Linked DNA regions of Homo sapiens: region 1 is linked to region 2. A link means that fine-mapping ties the variant in region 2 to the expression of a gene that starts in the linked region. Tissue or cell type: visceral fat. Region 2 holds a variant in brackets; the other region holds the start of a gene. All regions are shown on one strand. Distances are between the middles of the regions.

Evidence for each region. PIP is the estimated chance that this variant, and not a neighbour inherited with it, causes the effect.
Region 1: EPN2 starts here. The variant in region 2 is the best candidate, but not a certain one, in a credible set for the expression of EPN2 in visceral fat (GTEx, PIP 0.53).

The regions. Positions count from the first base shown.
Region 1 is chr17:19,236,209-19,238,890 of GRCh38, reverse strand. It overlaps EPN2 (epsin 2), which reads right to left and starts at 1,525. Exons shown (of 11, transcript NM_014964.5): 1 at 1,360-1,525. RefSeq lists a silencer at 1,148-1,617.
Region 2 is chr17:19,291,713-19,294,394 of GRCh38, reverse strand. All of the region lies in intron 4 of EPN2 (epsin 2), which reads right to left. Among named protein-coding and RNA genes, the nearest start is that of EPN2-AS1, 13 kb to the left of the region's middle. The variant G/A (reference allele first, on the strand shown) is at 1,268.

The DNA of each region.
Region 1 (2,682 bases), 56 kb after region 2:
GCTTGGATTCTTAAAATTCACCTTTTCCCATCATTTTAACACCCTGTTCCAATCCCTTCTTTCACAGGATATTTTCTGGAGGTGAAAAGGAATAACTCATTACTTCTCATATTTTCCTGCCCACTTTCTTGCATAAATATTAAAAATAAAGGGGAAGGTAGGGTCCTGAACATCTCCCTAAAAGATAAAAAAGTTATTAAATGTGGTAAACAGAGCCTGGAGACCTAGCTTCTAGTTCTGCACTGACACAGTATCACTGCGTGACCTTGGGCAAATTACTGCAGTTCTGGGCCTCAGTTTCCCTCATCTGAACCCTAATGATGGTTAAGCCCTCTCCGCTCTTAAAGCACAGATTTTAGATACGTCCCCAGGGAAGCACAACTGTGAAGGAGTCGCCCAGACGGACTCCTTGGGCGGAGAAACGGCCTTCCACAAGCTCCGGCGGGGGGATTCACAGGGAGCTCAAGCTGCCCCAGGGAAAGCCACTGGGCAAACTTCAGGTCGCAAACAAAAACCTGTTGGCACCGACTCCTCTAGCAAAGGCCAGCCTCCCAACGCGCTCGGCTCTCGGCTCTAGGGGAGCCGCCCCACAGGGAGAGAGAGGAAGTCTCTCCTGGAAGAGGCCAGACCCCACGCACCCATTCACCCACCCGGATCAGCCGAGCAGGACCGCCGGGCCGGGTGGGTCTCTGCCATCCCACGCGGAACAAAAGGCAGCTGGAGCCTGGCTCTTCCGCCCCCGTCCCCGCTGTTCCGTGGGAGTGGGGGCTGGGGAGTGGGGAGCCTGGTCCCCAAGGACGGAAGGGGGCCCTGCTACAGCCCCCAGGAAAGGTGAGACGGGCGGGATCCCGGACAGAGATAAGGACCCCTCCCCCGATTCCCGGAGGGCGCCCGGACCGGGCTCTGCACGGGGGCTGGCGGGAGACCAGGCTGGGCTCAGGAGGAAGGGGCGCCGGGCTCGGGGAGAGGAGGAACGTGCTCTGGGGAGGGGGCGGGGTTGTTCCAAGATGAACGGGGCTCCAGGATCCGAGGTAGGAGTAAGGGGCGCCCTGGACTCTGGGGACATAAAAGGAGATGCTCGGTGATAGGGACGGGTAAGGGGGGAGATCCTTGCAGCGGAAAGCTGGATCCAGATGGGAAGGGGGCCATGCTCCAGTCCGTGGGGCGGGGCCTGGTTGGAAAGAAGGGGATCCCCCAGAGCCTGGCGTAGGGACCAGCGGGGCGGCAGGGGCGCATGCCCTGGCGGGGCTGGTGAGGTAGGGGAGCCTGTGCTCTGGGGGCGTCCGCGCCCTGGAGAGGGGGAGGGTCCTCGCCCCGGGGACTCGCTCTGGCCTTGGAGCCCCACGGGCTGTGGCTCACCTCTGCTCCTCCGGGCCGGCGTGGGTGCGCCGCTGCGGCCACCGGCAGCGCTCGAGAGGCGGGAGCGACCGTAGCCCGCGGAGCCGCCGCCACCGCCGCGTCTGGCTCAGTTTGACACCCACACACCAGCCAACATGGCGGCCGGGAGGGGGCGCGCCGGACGCGTGCGCGCGCCCTCAGGCCCCGCCCCCGAGGCCCCGAGGTCCCGCCCCCACGCCCGCAGACCACGCCCCTGCGACCCCGCCAGAGCCCCTCCCTAGTGGCCCCTGCGCGGCTTCCCCTCCGCCTCCTGCGCTCCAGGACCCCACGCGGACGACCCACCCTTCCGCAGCGCCCCACAGTCGACGCCCGAGCCCCCAAAAAACCCCCAATCCCGAGCGCCACACAAACCCTGGCAAATTAATACCCGAACGCGCGCACTCTAATCCCCTTCAGGCCACTCCACCCCGTACACACTCACGGCCCCCCCACACTCACGGCCGGGCAGCACGCGCAGACCCCGCCCCGTCAAGCAGAAACTCACGCTCCGGCCTGCCGGTTTCACTCAAAAACCTTGTTCAGTAGGAGAGACTGGAAGGGGGCCAGGGCCTGCCGGGCGCTGGTAGGGTTGGGTTCTTAGGCTACAAGTGTGTTCACTTTATGAAGATGCGCGGAAGTACACTTTGGATTTGTGCGCTTTTCCGTGCGTGTATTTCACGTCAATAAAATATACTCAAAAACGGAGAAGTCTCTAGGCTTCTTTAGGCTGCTCAAGGGGTTACCTAAGGGCACGAATGGCAAGGGGTTACCTACATGGCACGAAAACGGAAACCCTTGACTGGCGGGCACCCACAAAGCACCTCCTCTGTGCCAAGCCCTGTGCTGGGCACAGAAATGAGACAGCCCCAAATGCCTCGAATGAGAGTCCCGGAACTGGAGGGGCCAGAACTGGAGGCTGCACCTCAAAGCTGACTAACCTGCTCCAATCAGGGTGGGAGTCAGCAGAGACTTCTCACAGCAGGGGCGCGGAGCATGAGTCAGGGCTTGCTAGGTGGGCAGAGGGCACCATCCCTGTTGCCTGGGTGACATCAACACTCTGCCTAGCCTTGGCTTCAGGGAAGCTGTGGCCAGAAGTCTTCCTCTGCCCTAACTCACTGAGGGACCTTAAACAAGTCACTGTACTTCTCTGAGCCTCAGATTCCTCCTCCCTGTACAGGAACCAGGGGATGAAAGTATCCCTTAAGGTTCTAACAACCCAGGATCTGGAATTCCATTCTCTGGCAAAAAAAAAAAAGGTTGTATCTTTCCAGGAATTCATCTATTTATTGTAAGTTTTTTAGTGTG
Region 2 (2,682 bases):
AGGCTAGAATGCAGTGGCACAATCTTGGTTCACTGCAGCCTGGACTTCCTGAGCTCAGGCGATTCCTCCCACCTCAGCCCCACAAAGTAGCTGGGACTACAGGTGCACACCACCATGCCTGGTTAATTTTTTTTTTTTTTGTAGCGATGGGGTTTTGTTGTGTTGTCCAGGCTGGTCTCAAACTCCTAAGCTCAAGCAATTCACCTGCTTCAGCCTCTCGAAGTGCTAGGATTACAGGCATGGGCCACTGCAGCCGGCCTCCCAATCAGCAATTTTGATAGCACTGTTTCTTTTTTTTTTTTTTAAAGACAGAGTCTTGCTCTGTTGCCCAGGCTGGAGTACAGTGGTGCGATCTCAGCTCACTGCAACCTCTGCCTCCCAAGCTTCAAGCAATCTCCTGCCTCAGCTTCCTGGGTAGCTGGGATTACAAGCATCCACCACCACACCCGACTAATTTTTTGTATTTTTGGTAGAGACAGGGGTTTCACCATGTTGGTCAGGCTGGTCTCAAACTCCTGACCTCAAGTGATCCACCAGCCTCGGCCTCCCAAAGTGCTGGGATTATAGGCATGAGCCACCGCGCCCAGCCTTGATAGCACTGTTTCAATTCTGAGAACAATCCCATATTCTGACAATCAGAGGAGCTCCTTAAGATCTGGGGCCCAATTAAATAATGGTTTAATTAGGTATTCCTGGCTGAGTGTGGTGGCTTGTGCCTGCATGCCTGTAATCTCAACACTTTGAGAGGCCGAGGCCAGAGGATAGCTTGAGCCCAGGAGTTCCAGATCAGCCTGGGCAACGTGGCAAAACCCCACCTCTACAAAATACAGAAAGTAAAAAAAAAAAAAAAAAAAAAAAAAGCTGGGTATGGTGGCATGCACCTGTAGTCTCAGCAACCCAGGAGGTTAAGGTGAGAGCATCACTTGAGCCCAGGGAGGTAGAGGCTGCAGTGAGCCACAATCACACCACTGCACTCCAGCCTGAGCAACAGAGCAAGACCCTGTCTTTTTTTTTTTTTTTTTTTGAGATGGAGTTTCGCTCTTGTCACCCAGGCTGGAGTGATCTCGGCTCACTGCAACCTCTGCCTCTCAGGTTCAAGCGAATCTCCCACCTCTGCCTCCTGAGTAGCTGGGATTACAGGTGCCCACCACCATGACCGGCTAATTTTTTTGTATTTTTAGTAGAGATGGGTTTCACCATATTGGCCAAGCTGGCCTCGAACTCCTGGCCTCAGGTGATCTGCCCGTCTCAACCTCCCAACATGCTG[G/A]GATTACAGGCGTGAGCCACCCTGCCCAGCCAATCCCATCTTAAAAAGAAAAAAATAATAATACAGAAAAAAGCATTATATAAGATGAACCATATAATTTTAAAATTGTAATAGGTGTACACCGTATTTGCCTATTTTGCAGAAAAAATTTTAAAGCAATTTCAAAAACTGTCAAGTAGAGGAAAGAGAACCAGAGTTCTTCAAAATCCCAGTTCTAATTCTAGCTTCTTCACTTACAAATGAGAGGATTTAGGGGAGCAAGTTCATGTCAGTTTCCTTATTAACCTCATCTGCCCTGCCTACCTTCTAGACAACTGTGAGAAGCAAATGGACTCCTCCTAAGAGAAGGCAAAGGCCCAGGAGAGGTGATCCAGATGCCTTCTGGTTGTGTTGGGCAACTGTCTGACTTTAGCAGCCCAGCCATTCACGAATCACATTCAAATCCCACTTAAAACCCAAGCCCTTGTGGCAAGAACGAGCATCTTTTATACCTGATACTTGGATAGATGTGTCAATAAATCTGCTGCCTCTGAGGGTGTGTTCATGTTACTGATCAGCTTCCTCCATGACTCAATTTTCCACCTGAAGAGATTAACTCTCTCTAGAGTAAGCTAACGCTGACAGCCCTGCTGTGCCTCTGCCCCTGGGACTGACTGCCAGCCGAAGATGCAGGGCTCCCCTGACTTACAGAACACATTTGTTCCACCAAAACAAGATGCCAAATGAGTCTCATCTCCCACCAAATTCCTGGTCCATCCCCAAAACCCAATGGAAGGGCCCTGAGGGCTAGACACACTCCCCACAGGTAGCTATCCCTGGCCTGACACTAGGAAATACCTGGCTGGTGGCCACCAACCACCTCTCAGCCCCGGGCGGGCCCTGCTGCCCTCCTAGTTCCTGGCAGCATCACTCAGCCCTGCACCTTGGAGCTCTGTCACCTCCCACACTCTCAGGAGACCTCAGCTGGCCCAGGATCCTTCCAAGGTCCACCTCAGAAGCACTTCTGACACGCTGGCTGGGTTTGGCTTTTCTTTTTTTTAACAATATATTTTCCCACATCTTTGAGTTTTCAAAAGTAGACCCATGTAGGACTCCCTTTTCAGATGCCTCCTTCTTACCAAAACACTCTCCTTTGTGTGTACATGTCTGGTGTAAGTGCACATGTGTCTGTGTGTGCGCATGCTTCAGCTCTATTCCCAGAGCTGGGCAAGCAGGGCTGAGGCCATGACAACTCTGGTTCACCCCTGAGGTTCCCTTGTTATGAAGACAGCTTCCGTAGAGAGTCCTCTGAGGGCCCACTGTGCCTGGGGACTTCCTGGACATACTCATGAAACAGCGCACAAGAAAGCTTTCAAATTCTACCAAGTCCCCATTGGGTTTAAGAATGAGGCCGGGCGCGATGGCTCACGCCTGTA